Linked DNA regions of Homo sapiens. The protein of the gene in region 5 purifies or fractionates together with the protein of the main gene of each other region. This does not show direct contact. Each region holds a gene or a part of one and is shown on either strand. Other genes may lie near its edges.

Region 1 (3,872 bases), on a different chromosome or scaffold from region 5:
TGCTTTTTAACCATTAAGTACACACATACAATATAGATGTAACAATCTTTTTACTCTCTTACAGTCATATTGCAGTTTCACAGTGGTATAAACTCCAATAAAATTAAGAATTTTTTTTCAGTACATGAGATCAAACTGTATACAGAGCTGCCATAACGTATAAGTTAAGCCATGTATATACATTAATACATACATATATGTTCCAATAACATGTTGAAGATTTCCCAGGTTTTTTTTTCTTTAAGTTATTGCTAGACATATCAAAACACAGTATAAAACTGGTCATCACAACACCCTTCTGCAGTAATGATGAGAGTGGGCTAGGAATGTGATGAAAGGCACAGAATTCATAAGACTTGAGTAAGTAGATCCAAATTTGTTATCACTAATGGCTCAAACAATGTGGAGCCACTGATTTTCTGAAGTGAATATAAGAAACAGTAGTTAATAGTATTTATCCAGGCTTCTAGTATAAGACATTGTACTAGGAGTTTCTCAAGTAGAAAACTTGTCTCACAAGGGTAAGTTACATAAAAACTCCAAAGAAGAAAGGGCAACTGATAGAAGATTAGTTCTCCTGTGGCTAGACGGTGCGTTGTACAGCCTTTCCGTTTAGTGAGGTTCTACTAAAGGGAATGCCAACTTTGTGGTTGACATGGGTGATCCTTGGGTTTCGTCACGCATGAAATTAACAAATAAAAAATGTTCAAGGCCAGGTGTGGTGGCTGATGCCTGTAATCCCAATGCTTTGGAGTCTGAGGTGGAAGGATTGCTTGAGGCCACAAATTTGAGACCAGCCTGGGCGAAAGAGCGCAACCCTGTCTCTACCAAAAAAAAACAACAACAAAAAACTTAGCTGAGTGTGGTGGTACCAGCCTGTTGGGAGGCTGCAGTGAGAGGACCATTCGAGCCCAGGAATTTGAGGAAGCTATGCTCATACCACTTGCACTCCAAGACCCCATCTCAAAAAAAGAAAGAAAAAAGAAAAAAAAAGTTTTCAGTTTATGGAATTAAGCAATTAAGCATATTAAAAAGCCAGGGCCTAATAAGTACTATGCTGATCAAGTGCAAAGGAGAGTTCTTAATATGAATAAATGGGTCTTACAAGTCAATTAATTCAAGAGGTTATAAAATACATTTTTTAAAAGAGTTAAGCTTATTTTTCATACAAAGAAAAAATTCCAATCACCCATTGACAATACCCCAATCAGCCAACAGCCCATCAATGCAGAGTCTGCTGCAGTTGTCTGGAAGTTTTCACTTTCTTCTTCCAGAAAAAATGCTCAATTTTCATTGCCAACGTTCTTGGTAGATTCACTCTTCACTAGAAAAAAATAAGTAAACATACAGTCAAGTGTTTATATTTTTCTGTTTAGGTTGCTCTGTCCCTCTTCTCTCCCTCCTTCTGATGTACAGCAAAAGCACTGCTCACAGGGACACACAAACCGCGTCATGTCCCAGGCAGCTAGGATATACAATTCTGGCCACAATAAATAGAGAAATGATGTCTGAAAGTGGCAATTATATTTTGTGAGGTAACATCCTTCCTGACTCTGTGGAAGACTTAGGAATGGTCACTTCACAATGTGGTTATGATCCATATTCATGCCACTGAATAGATCACTATTATCCTGGCCAGCCACTTGTGGTTAGAATAAATTTTTTCCATGATTTTTTTTTAAACTTAATTGAGGGTCAGTATATGTTGAGTGAATGTGGAGTGACAGAAGACTAGCTAATCGCCATCTCCTTCCTTTCACAGGAAAGAAGAATAGAAATGGAGCTCCTCTGACACCCCTGTCTTGCTTAGAGCAAGCAAGACTAACTATGACTCACTCACTAAACTGAGAGTTCCTGGAGGACAGAAACTCGACCTTTCTTCTCTGTATCTATCCTCACAATTTAGAGTATGTTTGCTGAATCAATGTAACTGCAAATCATTCTGCCTTTTAGTGTTTTTTCCCTAAATCTGCAAAATGGGAACCGGAGTAAGTGTTCTATTTCATGGTCTTGTGAAGCTAAAAGGAAATAATAGGTAGTAACTCTTTAAAAATTGTCATGCTAAAATATAGGTTATTTTGAGGCTTATAGCTGTTATCTCCACTGAGTAGATAAGAAAAATAAAGCTCAGAGAGGCAGAGCAAATGCTCAAGGGACCACAGCTTATAAAAGCTGATGCTAGAAGCACACACCTGGAACTGCCTCATATTCCAACTGACAAGTTCCCTGGGGTTTGCTGTTGTACCTAGACTTCAGATTGTACCAGCAACCACAATGGTGTTTACTGAGCCCTTTCTAAGAGTAAGGCACTGAAATAAGTTCCATCCAAGATATCATCCCAATCTTTGTGAAATTTTATGAACTTTAGCAGTCCATCCAGTGCCTCCATGATATTAAAAGTTTTTTTCCTTCTCTGGCTGTCTCTGTACTTCAGGTAAACTCTATTTTAGCATCTATTGTATAATAAGTTTTACATGCGTGTTCCAGTGCCAAAAATCCTCCTCTCTCTCCCTGCAAAAGGAAAAGAAAGAAAAGAGAAGTAAGGAAGAATGAGGAAAGGTGAGCGAGGGAGAATGGATGAAAGATTTACTGGCCCAATAAGAGACTGATATATGAGTAGCTGCTATGCCAGGTATTTTCACTAATTCCAGTAATCAATTTTGGGTTGGATTCCTTCTCTAAAGGCTGAGGCATTTTCTAATCTTGAGTTACACTAGAACATCAAAAAGTTTATTTTGCTGACATTTCTAAATTAATAAAGATTTTTAGCAGTATGGGACATTTTCCCCTTTCTTTGCCTATTGAAGGTGCCCAGTTTTCTTCTTTGAATAGGGTTCCATTCTTTTTTCCTTAGATTGAAATGCAGCATGCTTTTCTCCCTCATCTAAATCTGCTAGTCTAATAACAGCCTGTGAAGCAAGTTACACCATTCTGAGCACTTCCCACTGGACTGATATAAGGTAGGTAATCAGCACTTAGCATCTCCAATCTAGTGGAGTATCTAAATAGCTCTATCTTTTCCAGTTAACCTTTTCCATTACTGAAAAGCAACAAACAAACAAAATCTTGGCTACTGCTGATTAATATAGGCAGACTCAAATAATTATGGCAATCTACAATCATAACAAATATTAGAACAACCATCAGGTGTGGGAACTACTGAATCCCAGACCAGAAACACATGTACCCCCAAATTAGGAAAGAGACAACTTGTACTATAAACTCAGGATCAAAATCCAACTTTTTTACCTCCAGAGAGGGAAGGAATTTCAAGGCTTTCCAAAGAAAATGCCCTCTTCTTACATAATCCCCTTCCCTCATCAAGGTATCACCCTGCAAAATATCTGATGCTGTGAGAATGTATAAAGAAACAGACACCTTGAAGTACTTACAGAAAGAAATGCATGTACAGGAAGACCTGGGCATTACTTTTAAGGTGTGTGTACTTACGATGTGACAAAACTGGTATGGTTTTAAAATCCTGTCAGATACTTTTAGTTCTTTGCTAACACAGTTCTAAATAATCCTCTGTACTAAAAGCATGAGTCATTTGTGTTCCTGTAAATAAGTCAAACATCATATATCCACCAGAAAAATAGCAAATTTTACTCAATAAGGCTCCCAGTACGCTAGTAAAGTAGTCTTTTCTTATTGCTTCATTACAGGAAGCCTTACTTGAATGTACATTCCTAAACAAGGTGAAAGGAGAGCTGTGTGTGCTGTTTATTTATACAGAAGATGTTTGCCCTAGCTACTAACCTACATTACTAAACAACTTTTCCCAAAACCAACATTTGAGAGAGCACTGTGAATTTATTAAGAAAAAAGCAACATAATACAAAGCTTAAACAAAGTGAAACTGGCCATTTAAA
Region 2 (3,872 bases), on a different chromosome or scaffold from region 5:
TGATGGGATTACAGGCATGAGCCACTGCACCCGGCCTGACTTCACAATATTAATTGGACATAAAATAGGAGAAAAACAAGGGGAAAAACTGGGACAACAGGAAGATCTGTTGTCCTAGTTTTGGAACAACAAAAATTTGGAAAATGAGAGCGCAGGCAAAGAGTGGAGAGTAAGGGGAAATGACAACAGAGGGAGCATGGGGAGAGGATGGAAGAAACAGACACAAGGGGAATGAGCAGAGGGAAGACAACAAATCACAGCAGAAGGGAAGGGATGAGAAGCAGGAGCCTTCAGAGGTCACAGGTCTACTACTGGATCACCTGATAATTAATTGGAAGGTTTATGTATACATTTAAAACATCATGTTCCATTTCTAACATTATTCATAAGTTCAAAAAAAGAACAGGTCTTTCATAGAAAATGATTAGTGGTATTAGCAGAAAGAAAGGAATAGTAAATATTTCTCCAATTCTGTGAGTTTTCTATCAACAAGCTGATGATTAACAAACAAGAAACTTTGTTTTGTTTTTGTTTTTGAGACAGGGTCTTGTTCTGTCAGCCAGGCTGGAGTACAGTGGCATGAGCACAGCTCACTGCAGCCTCGATCTCCTGGGCTCAAGTGATCCTCCTGCCTCAGCCTCCCAAGTAGCTGGGACTATAGGCCTGCACCACCCCGCCTGGCTAATTTTTAAATTTTTTTGTAGAGACAGTGGTCTTGCTATATTGCCCATGCTGGTCCTGAACTCCTGGCTTCAAGCGATCCTCTTGCCACAGCCTCCTCGAGTGTTGGGATTACAGGTGTGAGCCATTGTGCCTGGTCAAGGAACTTGTTTTGAACCTGGCAGGCTACAGGAATCTTCAGACACAGGAAATAGTTTCTATCCAACAAGGAGAGGAACACAGAGCTGACAGTGCTCAAGTAACAGAGGAGTAGGTGGAAAAAAGTGGTTACGACATTAGTAAAAATAATTAAACCCTTCACTGACTGACACAGAATAACTCAGAACAAAAAAGAAACAGAAAACAATGCTGGAGACCAGGTGCAGTGGCTCACTCCTGTTAAATCCCAGAACTCCAGGAAGTGGAGACAGGTGGATCACTTTAGCCCAAGGGTTTTGAGACCAGCCTAGGCAACATGGCGAAACCTCTTCTCTACAGAACATGTAAAAATTAGCTGGGCATGGTGATGCATGCCTGTAGTCCCAGCTACTTGGGAGGCTGAGGTGGGAGGATTGCTTGAGCCTGAGAGGTCGAGGCTGCAGTGAGCTGTGATCGCAGCACTGCATGCCAGCCTGGGAAACAGCAAGACCCTGTCTCAAAAAAAAAAAAAAAAAAAAAAAATCATCTAGTACAAAGAGCAAGTACCAAGAGAAATTATAAGCCCCATTTATGCCTGATCAAAAATAGAACTTGATGTTTCATTAGTAACATCCTTCATGTTCACGCTTTATTCACACTCCCTTTGCCCTCTCCAGGTAGAAGCTTGCTGTGGACCTCCCTATTGCTGTACTCACGTGAGGGCTTCTTTGCAGCACTGTCCTGAGGGGTTAAGATCCAGCAGAGACAAATGGAAATGTCTGCCAACAGTGTCACCTTGTCTTATCTGGCTGATGCCTCTTGAACTTCCTCGTTCTTACTACACATCCAGGACCCAGAGCTCTTCATAGAAAATCACCATTAAGTTTGGAAGCTGGGAATCCTCATCACAAGGACAGTCCAGGTGCAAGTTCGTGGAATTACACAAAGCAGTGTATTGGAATCACACTAATCACACAGGATGGAAGAAGACAGAAAGCCAACAGAAGGATGCTTGGTAGTTTCGGGAATGTGGTACCGGGACAATGGGTTGGGATTAGACGGATGATCAGTTCGCCTGGTCATCTCTGCTAGGAAAGATATTCCCCCGACAGAGGCACCTAAATTGTAATCCATGGGAACGGAGCAGAACTGCCTCCCAGGCAACTGAGTGGCTGAAGAGGTGAGGACTTGGAACTCAATTATTTCTGATTTTAAAGAGCAAAAACTACTTAGCAATAAAAAACCCACCTGGAATCAGGGTCACAGTACCATGCTTCTGGAGTTAAATGAACACAAACATTCTCACTTTCCATCTGGTCTACAAAAGGGGATAGGTAGTCTCTAACTCCTCAACACTCAATTGAACACATCAGAGATCCCACAGCTAACACACAGAGAGACAAAACCATCTTATCAGACAGTAAGCCTGCATCCGTCTTACCCTGGGGAAATGCGCTCCCATAATTCTCCTGCCTGTTGTCCCTACTGAGATTCCTCCGAGCCAGATTCTGACATCCCCATTCCTCCAGAATGAGGGACACAGCCATGTCCTCGATCTTCACCATTGCCTAAAATAACACGAGACAAACAGTCATTTCCCCCCAAACTCAGGGACAATCCCATTGCTCAAACCTGGAGTCAGGAAGAGAGGTGGCTGCAAAGCTACAGGACGCTGGGAAGAAAAGGGTGGCCAGAACCTGGGGGTGGAGGGGAGTTTGTGGTAGAAAGATGCTAAAAGGAGAGGACAGGGTTGGGGCTTCTTTGAGAGCAGGGGCATCCAGAGTGGCCTGTGGAGATAATGAAGAGAGCTCAGGAACAGAGGCAGACACTGAGGACTCAGGAGAGCAGAGGGGCCACAGCTCACCTGGGAATCCGCTGTGAATAGTGCAGATGCCATCGCCTGGTCTCTGGGACTACCCTCATGAGGGGGTGCAGGAATGTGGGCAGCAGGAAGAGCTGGGGGAGGAGAAAGGGTCTGTGAGTAAATCAGCTCCGCTCTGAGCCTTGCTCAAAGAAGGGCTCGGGGCATGTTCCTTCCTGCACCAGCATGTTCACTGTTCAGTGTTTAGGTCCCAAATACAGAATTCCAGACAACACAAACGAGAGAACACAGGGCCTCAGTTTTCCCAAGACCTCTACTCTTGAGCAGGAGTCATAAAAGGGTCCTAATCACCTGGTCCAACCCTTTTATTTTAAAGAAGGGGAAACTTGAGTCCCTGAGACTGCAAATGACTTCCCTAATGTCACATTCCCAGTGGCAGAGCCAGGATGGGGACCCAGGTTCCTATTCTCAGCTATAAAAGTGGGTACCTTCAGCCCATAGCTCAAGTCTGGCTCCTAATTTCCTCCAGTCCAAGGAACGATACCAGGATATGAGAATCCCATTTATGCCTACACTTGTGGAAAACACAACACAGCTTTAAAATCTTTAGTGGCAGGTGAGGCGGGAGGATTGCTTGAGCTCAAGGGGTCGAGGCTGCAGTGAGCTATGATCACGCACTCCAGCCTGGATGATAGAGTGAGACCCCGTCTCAATGAAATCCAGAAAAACAACAACAAAAAAAACACTTTAGTAGCAATATCCAGAAAGGCAGGGAAGTAAGGAGGTCTCCTTAGCTCTGGGTAAGTTTTTTTTTTTTTTTTTTTTTTTTTGAGACAGAGTTTTGCTCTTGTTGCCCAGGCTGGAGTGCAATGGTGCGATCTTAGCTCATCGCAACTTTCGGCTCCCGGGTTCAAGTGATTCTCCTGCCTCAGCCTCCAGAGTAGCTGGGATTACAGGCATGAGCCACCACGCCCAGCTAATTTTGTATTTTTAGTAGAGGCGGGGTTTCTCCATGTTGGTCAGGCTGGTCTCGAACTCCTGACCTCAGGTGATCTGCCCGCCTCGGCCTCCCAAAGCTCTGGGATTACAAGTGTTAGCCACTGTGTCCGGCCACCTCTGGCTAAGTTTTTGCCAGTTTTTGTCCCTCTACTTTTCTCCCTCACTTGGCCACAATAAATACTGTTTTTTTTTTTTTTTTTTGATAAGATGTATGCATGGTTCAAATGCTGAGACAAAAGTTGGGGCTGACACA
Region 3 (3,872 bases), on a different chromosome or scaffold from region 5:
AGGACAGCCGCGCCTTAGTTCCTCTACTCCAAAGGTGGTCGCCTGGTCAGGATTCCCACCCACCTCCCCGCTGCCCCTTGGCACACACAGAGGAGCAGCAGACAACAGCGGCCTGGACTATGCCGCTGACCCACCTTGGGCTAATGACCTCACCTCTCCGCATCTCAGTTTCCTCACCTGTAAAATGTGAACAGCAACAGCATCTGCTGATGAGAGTGGCTGGGAGAGCTAAGTGCAATAAGGCCCGTAAGCATTTGAGAAAGTGGCCGGCCAGGGCTTGTCTCGTGCTAATGAGAAGAGCCAACAGCCCCTTCTGGAACCTGGGCCTGGAGGGAACCTCTGGTGCTGCCTGCTCGCTCTGGTCCACATGACAGTGACATGAGCATGTGCACTTCGTTAACTCTCACCAAGAGGTGCACCTGGTACATGTGCACTTTTCAGTGCATATATCATGTTTTAAAACTTGCCCCCAGCCTCAATCAAAAGCACCTGACAATGAGAAACATGTGAATGCCCCCTCCCCTATCACCACACAGGCAGGAGGAAGCTCCTGCCTTAACTTACATTCTGCTAAACACTATAAGGATGTGAATCACACACAAGTTGACACACAAATTTAAAAATGAAATGCTAGCCGGTCGCACAGGTGAGCTAAGAACTGTCATACAACAGGCAAGTACCTCATAGTCCCTGGGGGGCTTATAATCTTGAACTGACATAAACCTTAGCAAGTACACACCAGAAACAGTCTCATCTTCAAACTTCCCCCAAAGATAAAAGGCTTTTCATATATGTATATTTTTTGGAACCACGAAAGGAACAGCTAAGTTGTTCCTCTTTAACATAACATAGCAAATGGTAATCATAAAAACCATGGTTTAATCATTGAGCCACACTCTCCATAATGGGCAGCACCTGAATGTCAGTGTCCGGTTTCAGATGACTCTCCTTTCCTATTCATCCTAACACAAGTAGACACAATCATATATTTTCATTCCAAGAACAGTTTAATGGGCTCACAAGTCCCAAAAGTTCAGACTGTCACTAAACATGTTCTCAGTTGGTGATCACGACTATGAAACAAAAACATAAAACACATGTCTATACCAGAAGCAGATTAATCTTCAAAACTGTAGCCAATAACTGTGTAAAATACCACAAGCTCGTGACGCAGGCGTATCCTGTGACCACCTGGGATGTGACAAGGCTCCTGCCCGGTCAGAGGGGCCAAAGCCAGGCACTCACCGTAGCCTTGTCAAGGACTTTGATGGAACACGGCTCAGCCACGTTGTGCTTCCGCAGGGCTTGCTCCAGCAGCTGTAAAGGAGGACGCTCCCATTTCCCGAAGACCACCAGGTCTATGTCGCTGACAGAAGAAAACGCACGTCAGCCACTGCTCCCCTCGCCACAGCCTACACACTCGTGTGGGGAGGATAAGCACCAAGGCACATGTGCCTGTGTCTCCCACAAAGGCCAAGACACAATCCCACTAGCCTATGGCCCCTAAGGAGGTGAAGTGCAGTTCATGAACTACAGCAAGTCCTCGCTGAACTTAAGGGAAGACTTCCATATTTGTAGCATAAGATGGAAAGCAAGAAGGTTAAATCATTCTCCCAACAGCACTAGGTATGTGAGGGGATTCAAATGAAAATGCCTGCCCCCAAACCAGGCTGAGGCCCCGCTCTCCCAGCACCTACTCCGGCACTGCCTACGCTGGATCACTCCTGCGGACCCAGAGATTCCTGGATACCCAAACCTGTTCAATTACCCACTGGCCCTGCTAATGTCAACCCCCAAATCCTGAGATTATAGCCTCTTCGGCCTCCAAATGCTAACTAGCAGTGGGTTAATAGAAGGTAAGCTTTTAATGAGACAGTGCACAGGAAATTTATTTGGCTATCAAGAATCCTTAATGAGAAAATACTAGTTTGTATTTTAGAATGCAAACTTGTTTGACATTTTCCTATCAGGTAAAAATACTTAGAAAATACTATTTAAAGAGAATTTTGCTTGAATCTTCATCAAAACATAAGATCAATTTTTCAAACACATGTCCTAAAATATCAGCAGAATGTCTTCTATTGCGTTTACTTCCCACAGTCCTCCCACCTGTCTTCTTCATATTTCCAGCATGAAGCATTTTTGCACCCCAACAAATTAAGTGTGAGAGGAAAAATGCAAAGCAATGAATTCATCATAACACTAAATTAAATCTTTCTGCCAATTTCCCTCTGTAACCACAGTCTTTTCCTTTAGCTGGCATTTCTCGCCTTAGACTCAATTACAAAGAATCTATTTGTAGCCCTTAATATTGCATAGACACCATCCCAGCCCCCCACTAGCCCATGCCATGCAGTCTGGTACTCACCTAGTTGGAAGATAAAGACCTGTACTAAAGCTGCCAAATATCTGTACCTGAAAGAAAGAGTGGTTGCCTTAAAATGTATACCACAAACCAAGCAGTCACACTACCATTATTTCTTACTAAAAGAAAGCCCTCACTATACCCTTGGGTAAAAAATAAAACTACCTTGGAAACTGATGGAGGGGACCGTATAACAATCAACCAGAAAATTCCCTTTAAGTTAAAGACATGCCCAAAAAAGGAATGTTTAAAAACTCAAAATTAAGAGGTGAAACAAGTTTTGTCCTCACCCTATAACCCTTCAAAGCTGAGGACTTTTCAGAGCTAGCTTCAAACCCTTCAACCTCTTCTTAAACCCACAGCTAAGGCACTGGGGCAGGGCTTTGTCCTAGGACTCTGAAGTTTAAAGCCAAAAATCTGTATCATTTTAAAAGAGGCGCAGAAAACTGGGTTGCCCTTGCCCACCAAGAGCACACATGCCCCTCACAGCTGGGGCACGGCCAGCCCTGCTGGTCCACTGAGCCCAGTCAGCAGTAGGGAAGGCTGCTGAATAGAGCCGGCCAGGGGCAGGCTTCACGCCACCTGCACCAAGCATTCCAGAAGGCCCCACTCCACATGTCAAAAAACACTTGTTCCTTCACTGCAAGAGTGGTGTGTGATGAGGGAACACTTCCAAGTTTTACAAAAATGAGCACATTATATGCTACTATGTGTGGTGGTGGGGAAGCAGGGGTGGGTGACAGGGTGAAATTTCTAAATTTTAAGGTGAACTTAAGAGAAACAATCACACCATTCTCCCCCTTCCAAAAAAAAAAAAAAAAAACCCAACAAATCCCTCAGCCGATGGTCTTCGCACTTGAGTGCGCGCCAGCATCACGAAGATGTGCGGCCACCGCAGGTGTCTAAGACAGCAGGTGCAGGTGCGCCGGGGGCCATGCATTCCAGGCAACGGAGGCCTTCTCAAAGCACACTTGGAGAACTGCTGCCTCGGGCCAACGAGAAAAGGTCTGTGTGGATCTAGCCGACACATCATCATCACAGGGTATTTAAATTTACTCGCACGTGACGTGCGACACAGAACTCCAAAGAACATACTCACATCAGCCGTCGGCCAAAGGTCTTTCACCACAGTTTCGATCCGTTTCACCACCTCTCTTCTCATAGCTGCTTCTTCAGGACAAGGGGACATGAAGTTATAAAAGTCAATTATTTCCTCATGTAGTCTAATGGACAAAAAAGAAAACATACTAGAGTTACAATGAAATGTCACCACATTTTCTGTTCTGTTCTTACATCAGGATGACGCTCAAACATATTTCTGGCCACGAAATTCAGTTTCATTTCTCCTCTGAAAGTATAAAATGAAAACTCTGTGCTCAACAAACTTACACAGTATGACTTAGCAACACTAAACAACTGAACTTTGTCAATACCAAGTATCAATAAATGTATAACTGGCCTTTAAAGACTTCTCCAAAAAAATCATCTCAGTGACTTTATATTGAAA
Region 4 (3,872 bases), on a different chromosome or scaffold from region 5:
GTGCCTTAGCCTCCCAAGTAACTGGGATCACAGGTGCACACCTAGCTAATTTTTGTATTTCTAGTAGAGACGGGGTTTTGCTATGTTGGTTAGGCTGGCCTTGAACTCCTGGCCTCAGGTGATCCACCCACCTCGGTCTCCCAAAGTGCTGGGATTATAGGCATGAGCCACTGTGCCCGACCATGGAACATTTCTTACTTATCTGGCCACACTTGCTCTGAGGTCTGCAATGAGACTGACTAGTGAGATTGTGTCACCATCCCTCCTCACTGCTGCATCTCCTGGTTGTATTTTTCTTGGGGCATTTGCCACTCTTTAAAACCATCTTCTTTACTCATTGGTGCACCAGCTTATCTGCCTCCCTCCCCAAAGGGTGTCAGATCCACAAAAAGGCAAGAGCAAACAGTGTCTGTCTTGTTTAGGGCCATGTCCCAGCACTTAGAACAGTGCCTGGCACATTGTAGGTGCTCAGTAAATCCTTGTGTGAGGAATGACTGCACCTGCCCCTCTTTGCAGCCTCCTGTTAAATGAGTCTGTGATGTTGAGTGATGGATCCTGGGAGAATTACGAGCTTGCCCTCTTGAGTCTCTGGAGGGATCTCTGGCTTACCATACTGAGTGCTGGAAGGAGCATGGCCTTGCTGACAGCTGGATTTCAAACTTGTAGCCTACAGAACTGTGAGAGAATCTAAGCCATCCAGTGTGTGGTGCTCAACTAGCCCATGGCCAACCAGAGTTTGAAACCCAGTAGCTCAGCTCCCAGCATTCACTGCACTCTTACAATACACTTTTCTCAGGTTGGGCATGTCTCTGAAAGACTGATGGGAGAGCCGGGCGTGGTGGCTCACACCTGTAATCCCAGTACTGAGGGAGGCCAAGATAGTCAGACCACTTGAGCCCAGGAGTTCAAGACCAGCCTGGGCAACATGGCAAAAACCCGTCTTTACCAAAATAAAAAATAAACAAAATTAGCTGGGTGTTGTGGTGCATGCCTGTAGTCCCAACTACTTGGGAGACTGAGGTGGGAGGATTGCTTGAGCCCAGGAGGTCGAGGCTGCAGTGAGCCATGATTGTGCCACTGTACTCCAACCTCGGTGAAACAGTGAGACCATGTCTCAAAAAAAAAAAAAAAAAAAGACTTGGGGTCCAACCAAAGGAAAGAGGGATTGCAGGAGTTGTCTGCTGGGAGTTGGGCATATTCCCTCCTGTGTTTTAGAGAGGGGACAGCCAGGGCACATCAGGCAGGCCAGATATCCTCAGCTCCTGATAAGACACAAAAGCCTGCAGGGATACAGTAGAGTTGTAGGGAGAATGGGCTTCTGAACCACACTAGGCATGTCCACACCACAGGGCCTTTACACATGCTGGGGAACAGGTAGAGGAAACAGCGCATGCAAAGGCCCTGTGGTGGGGACATGCCTAGCTTGGTTCAGGAGCCCATTCATTCATTCATTCAAAAATATTCACTGAGTACCTGCTGGGCACCAGCTATGGCTGGGATACAGCCATGAACGAGAGAGACCAATGCCTTGCTCTCCTGGGGCTCCTGGTCTATTAACATCCCAGCTCAAATGTGGCCTCCTCCACACTGCCCTATCACAATCACTTCACCCTGCTTTATTCTCTTTATGACATTTTCCACTCTCTGAGATTTCCTGCCCTTGTCATTTGCTCACCTCTCTGTTCCCCCAACTCCATCCCGAACTCCTATGCCCAGAGCCTGAGTGTGTCTTGATCATGGTTGCCCCTCCAGCACACAGCAAAGTCCCTGGTCCAGAGGAACTGCTTAAGAAACATCTGTTGAACAACCAAATGGATGGCTGCATGGTGAGGGAAGCTCTCCTGGAAGGTGGAGACCCAAAGTCCCAAGTGAAAGAGGGATTACATCTGTGCACAACCCTCTTCAGTGTACCAGCTTTTCACTGCTGCCTTAAGAACATCATGAAGAAAGTAGTGGGGACAGCTCTAGTTAGCAGCAGCTCCATTTCCTGTATGAAGAAACTGAGGCTAGAGAGGTTAGGACACATGGCCCAGGTTGCATAGGGAATGGGTGACTTTCTCCAGCACACCTCAGTCCCTTGGGTGGGCAGGCAGTGGCAGCAGGTGACGTCCCACCCAGGGGACCTCACATCCTCCACCTCCCCAGCCCCCAGTCTTTCAGTCCTAGGCAAATCCACCTTCTCTCAGACGTACAACTTTCCCCATTCCCTCCTCCATGGGAGTCCCCTGCCCTCTGAGCCTGGCCAGATCCACTCCCAAGGTCCCCTAAGTACTCAGAGTCTCCGGAGAGCCACAGCACTCCGTGCCTATCCCCATGTGGAGCTTCCTGGGAGGCCGGAGGGGAAGGAGCTGAGGCCCAGGAGGGAGGAGTGGCAGGAGAGGACAAAACCCAGTCCCTAGACTCACAGGAAGTACAGTGGAGGCTGCCTCTCAGCCTGCTAGGTCAGCCCCTATAAGTGACACAAACCTTCCAGTGCAGGATGAGCTGAACCTGGGGCCTGGGAGGGTGGGGGTGGGGGTGTCCCAAGGGAAGCCACCTCCCCTAAGAGCCAGAGCTTAGTGATTAAGCGGGCACTACAGAGAATGACCTCCCTCTGAATGTGGTCTGGTGGAAGCTGGGGGTCCCCAGGGGGGCCTCAGGGCCAACCCCTGCTGCAGCCTCCTCGCCATGCTGTCTGCATCTGTATTTATCCCCGTAATGGCCTGGCTGCCTGTTGGAGTGTGGTGTCTTTGGAGCACAGCAGCCGGTGCCGTAGCCTCGGTGCAGAAATGATTTGTGTCAAGGTGCCGCCCCCACCTGGTCAGGAGTGCCAGCCTGCTCCCCGGGGGCTGCCTGTCGCCTGGCAGGAGCTGGTGCAGCAATGGGCATGCGGCAAGGGCCCCAGAGAATAAGGCTTGTGGCTGGACCCTGCCCACCAGAACCAGGATGCAGGATGTTGGGGCAGCCAGGCTGTGGCCAGGGTTCCTGTGTGGCTGGAAAGTGGGGCCAGATAAACTCTAAAGTCTTTTAGCTCTGAGACTCAAAGAACTCATGACTCTGAAATCCCAGAATTCCCAAATTCTGGAATTCTGTGAACCTCTAGTCCCGGGCCTCTACAATTCCAAGATGTTATGGTTCCTCTTCCTCTCACCTTTTCACTCTTCCTCATTTTCAACAAACTTGTGTCGAGCTTCCATTCTGTGCCTCTGGGTGTTGGGAGCAACGAAATGGAAACAGGGTTTGGTTCCATCTTTAAGCTCCAGTGAGGGCGACGCTTCTAAGCCAATGGTTACAGTATGCTGATATTGTAAGTGATTCCCTCTCAAGGACCAGGGAAATAGGAAGGGCTTTGTAGAGGAGTCCCTGGATTATTGGTTTTGGTGTTTTTTGTTTTTTGTTTTACCACATTGAAGTGTAACATGAAATAGAGCAGACATTCTACATGGACCAGTCAATGACTGTTCACAAACCAACATATCTGGGTCACCAGAACCCAGATCAGAAACAGACACGACCAGCACCAAAGCCCCCGGTGTCCCCTTCTTGTCAGTAACACCCGTCCACGTGTCCTACTGCTATCCTGACTTCCAGCAGCATAGATTTGTTTTGTCCATGTTTAAGGGCACCTAAGTGAAATCATATAGGATGACATACTCCTTTCTCTCTGGCCCCCTTCACACAGCACGTGTGAGACCCATCCGTGTTATTGCTACCTGTGTTCTTCCTTCAAGTTGGCTGTATGTGGTCTGCTGTGTGTTCATTCACCAGTTATGTCTCCCTTCTTCCAATCATGGGGGTTTGGGTGGGGAGTTCCAGTTGGGATTATTTGGATTAGCACTGCCATGAACATTCCTGTGTGTATCTTTGGGTGAACATACGTGAGTGTTTTCGTT
Region 5 (3,872 bases):
CAAACAGGAAGAAGCAGCTATGAATCTGCTTACAGCAGAAGCAGAGTGTCTTTGGTATTCTGACATACTCTTTCTGACGTTCAGACAAACCACCATTAGAGTAGCCACTGGTAAGAGAGTCGCATGAGAAACAAACCAAAAAACAAGACCAAAAAGTGAGGAATTAAACGGAGTAGACCCTATTGGTCTTTTCTCTAGGAAAAGCAGTCCTCCTTATGAAAGATGATACTACTTTCAAAATGGCCAATATGATACTAACCTTCAGTAACAGAGTTTTCACATCCCACAAGGTTGAGAAGGATATCATCATCTTTATCATCTACTTCACATCCCAGTAGCATCCAGCTTTCCACATTATCACCTTCTGAAATGGTGCTCTCTTCCTCTTCACTTGAACTGACCTCTATAATCATGACCTCTCGGATTACACCTGATCTCTCTTCAGATTTAGGCTTCTCAATATCACTCTTGCATTTCTTATCAACCAGCTCATTAGATTGAAGAGAAGAAGAAAGACCATGGGCATTTTCTTGTGCTTGAACTCTAACATTCTTTCCTTTACATCTATAAATACTGTCTTCATCAGACAAAGTGATGACCTCTGACCCATCTGACAGCTGGATGACCTCACTATCTGAAAGGACGATTAGCTTCTTCTGATTTGGTTTACTACTCGAAGATTCCGAATTCCCAGAGTTCTTTTCTTCATGCTCTTCCTCCCTGATGACATCATCAAGATCTTGGGCATAATGAATTTGGCTATAGAGTTGAAATTCCACCTCACTATCAACACTCAGTTCACTAGATGACTCATCTCGATAAAGATCATCTTCGTATGCTTCTATAGTCTCATAGCCACCAAACATCATAAAAAGTCAGTAACCTTGAAGCTGCAAAAGAGAAAGTTGTACACAGAATATACTTTAAAAGTTCAGATCATGCCAGTTTAAGTAACAATATCACCTGTCAGTGACAACTGCTAATATGAAGGCCATCACTATTCTCAGACATATTAAAATACCTTTTTTTCCAAGGATTTCTAAGTCCTGTTAGGACCCACTCCTGTAAGTCCCACCACTCCCCAACGAGAATTACTACTGACAAATTGAGTTATAGTTATTGATGGAAACACAGTCAACACTCTAAGAAATGCTTTGTTCTGTGATTTCATCGTGCAAACTTCATAGGATGATTTTCACAAACTAGATGGTGTAGTCAACTACACAACTAGGCTACATGGTATGGTCTATTGCTCCTAGGATACAAACCAATACAGCATGTAACGGTGCCAAATACTGTAAGTAACTGTAACACAATGGTATTTGGGTATCTAAACATACAAAAGATATAGCAAAAACGTATACAAATCCTATGGGACCACAGTCACACTGTCTGTCTTTAACCAAAATGCTATTATGCAGCACATGATATGTAAGATTTCACAGGTATATTGTAAACGAAAAACAAATTGAGATCTACCGCAGGATACAAAACCCTTGCTTTCCAAAATGTTAAAACAAAACTTAAAGCAGCTCTCACTATCCTATCCATTCTTCATCTTTTCCTTGGTTCTGGTTCTATAGCTCATATTTTCAAGCATATACAGGAATATTACTTCAATTATGACTAAAATCTATAACAGGAAACAATTTTGTTTACTGTTTGGGTGTAAATGTATATTCTCAATTAACAAATTAATCGCACGGCCCTCTGATCATTGGCCAAAAGAATAAATAAAAATGCCTGAGCTGGCAGTGGCTCATGCCTGTAATCCCAACACTTTGGGAGGCCAAGGCAGGAGGATCACGTTGAGGTTAGAAGTTTGAGAACAGCCTGGGCAACACAGTAAGACCCCATCTCCATAAAAATTAAAACTAAAAACTTAGCCAGGCATGGCAGTGCAAACCTGTAGTCCCAGCTACTACTCAGGAGGTTGAGGTGGGAGAACCGCTTGAGCTCAGGAGTTCAAAGTTACAGTGAGCTATGCTCATACCATTGTACTCCAGCCTGGGTGACAAAGCAAGAACCCAACTCAAAAATAAAACAAGGGTGGGCCAGTGCAGTGGCTCACGCCTGTAATCCCAGGACTTTGGGAGGCCAAGGCGGGTGGATCACTTGAGTCAGGAGTTCGAGACCAGCCTAGCCAAGATGGTGAAACTACATATCTGCTAAAAATAAAGAAATCAGCTGGGTGTGGTGGTGTGCGCCTATAATCCCAGCTACTCAGGAGGTGGAGGCACAAGAATAGCTTGAACCTGGGAGGCACAGGCTGCAGTGAGTCGAGATCATGCCACTGCACTTCACCCTGGGCAACAGAGCAGACTGTCTAAAAACTCTGTACTAGTTACAAAAATGTATATTTTTACAATGTATATTTATAATGTATAAATACAAACTTAATAATGACCCAATATTGAGACAAAACTCCCAGCTTTGGGAATAAATGTGTAAAGTGAAACACTTTACTTTCTACTGTGAGCATATTAAATCCTCCTCAGCCTTCATCTTTTAAACTCAGCTCAAAATCACTTGCAACCAGGCTAAATTAAGAGCCCCTTTTATGGGCTTCCATAAGTACTTTACATGTCAAAACACTCATCACATTTATAATTACTTATTCAATATAAATTTCCAAGAAACGCAGATCACAAATCCCAGGAGGGCAGGAACTATATGCACTCTGCTAAACAATGAATCACCAAAGCCAAACAGGGTAACTGGTATTTTCGGGGTCAGCTACAAACGTTTGCTGAATTCATAAATGAATAAATGAACTACACCATCGGGCATTTGTTCTTCAGCCCTGATAAATCTAGTATGTGCTTAAAATACAAAAATTATGAGATGAATTTCTCTGTTGTCTTTCGACTACTCCAAAGTCTTAAATTCTAGCATCAGCAACCAAAACTCTACACAGTAGATGTTTCCATTAGGTACTGATGGACTACTGATTAAAATGAGAGCCCTGAAAAAATAAGTGTGTGTCCAAAATCAGGGACAGCCTAAAGAGCAATAATGATGCCTATTTATTCTTTCTTCCACTAACAGCTATACACATAAAATAAAAAATAGTTGTTTTCTTAGTGTCCCAAATTTCTGCCCAAAAATACCAGGGTGTTGTGGTGGTAGTTCTGGTAATAGAACCACCTTAATCCCAAAAACCAAATGGACAAGAGCCAAAAATGTACTACATTCCTACTGGAGTTGTTTGTTTTCCAGAAACAAATAAACCCACCTGTAATGCTTTTCTTCTAAAGGGTATCATATACCTGTGCCCTTGTTGCACTGTCCTTCAGGTGGCTATGCTGTTACTGTCACACAAATTGAATGTGATTGTCTGAATAATGCTCACAGCATTCATCAGTTTATATTGAATTGTTAGCCTCAGAGGAATTCGAATAAAAGATGAATCCTTTCCTTTTTATTTAATAGGTAAATTAATTCTAAAAGAAGTCAAAGGAATTATGCTTCTTTCAAAATCCTCACTGGATCCATCCTGAGGATCCAGTGTGGACTTAAGACAAAACATAATTCCAGTGCAGCACAGAAAAAATTAAAAAGCCAAATTACAAAGTTACAAGTTTGTACTACTCTTGCAGCCATCCCAAAGGAAAGGGATTAAGAATAGAGCCATAGGCACACCTGTGAATGTATGCCAAAAATAAACTACAGAACCATAATAAAAACTGACTTCCTTGGGTCAAAGGATTTATCTCTTTCCCTGAAATGTAGAAAAATGAATTTAACAATTTAGCCCCTATGGCCTTTAAGAGGATTTTGTACCGTCTGTACTTGAAAATTGTGCTGGGCATAACGTGCTCTCTTATTTAGGTAGTTTATGTATGCCAGGGTTAAGGTCTGCCTAAGGTTGT

The links.
Region 1: the proteins of ZCCHC7 (region 5) and ZNHIT6 purify together in Homo sapiens (affinity purification with mass spectrometry, with the first as the bait; one large-scale study listed by BioGRID). This does not show direct contact.
Region 2: the proteins of ZCCHC7 (region 5) and ZKSCAN1 purify together in Homo sapiens (affinity purification with mass spectrometry; one large-scale study listed by BioGRID and IntAct). This does not show direct contact.
Region 3: the proteins of ZCCHC7 (region 5) and TENT4A purify together in Homo sapiens (affinity purification with western blotting; one study listed by BioGRID). This does not show direct contact.
Region 4: the proteins of ZCCHC7 (region 5) and CPNE2 purify together in Homo sapiens (affinity purification with mass spectrometry; one large-scale study listed by BioGRID and IntAct). This does not show direct contact.

Annotation. Positions count from the first base shown.
Region 1 is NC_000001.11:85,652,775-85,656,646, forward strand, and holds part of ZNHIT6 (box C/D snoRNA protein 1), read right to left. Parts: intron 1,325-3,872; coding exon 1,284-1,324; 3' UTR 1-1,283. UniProt on the Homo sapiens protein: Required for box C/D snoRNAs accumulation involved in snoRNA processing, snoRNA transport to the nucleolus and ribosome biogenesis.
Region 2 is NC_000007.14:100,028,743-100,032,614, reverse strand, and holds part of ZKSCAN1 (zinc finger protein with KRAB and SCAN domains 1), read right to left. Parts: intron 2,755-3,872; coding exon 2,663-2,754; intron 2,367-2,662; coding exon 2,240-2,366; coding exon of another isoform or gene 2,148-2,239; exon of another isoform or gene 1,765-2,147; coding exon of another isoform or gene 1,760-1,764; exon of another isoform or gene 1,417-1,759; intron 1-1,416. UniProt on the Homo sapiens protein: May be involved in transcriptional regulation.
Region 3 is NC_000005.10:6,737,226-6,741,097, reverse strand, and holds part of TENT4A (terminal nucleotidyltransferase 4A), read right to left. Parts: exon of another isoform or gene 3,659-3,872; intron 3,589-3,658; coding exon 3,465-3,588; intron 2,416-3,464; coding exon 2,369-2,415; intron 1,367-2,368; coding exon 1,246-1,366; intron 1-1,245. UniProt on the Homo sapiens protein: Terminal nucleotidyltransferase that catalyzes preferentially the transfer of ATP and GTP on RNA 3' poly(A) tail creating a heterogeneous 3' poly(A) tail leading to mRNAs stabilization by protecting mRNAs from active deadenylation.
Region 4 is NC_000016.10:57,095,583-57,099,454, forward strand, and holds part of CPNE2 (copine-2), read left to right. Parts: intron 1-3,872.
Region 5 is NC_000009.12:37,123,330-37,127,201, reverse strand, and holds part of ZCCHC7 (zinc finger CCHC domain-containing protein 7), read right to left. Parts: intron 891-3,872; 5' UTR 870-890; coding exon 260-869; intron 1-259.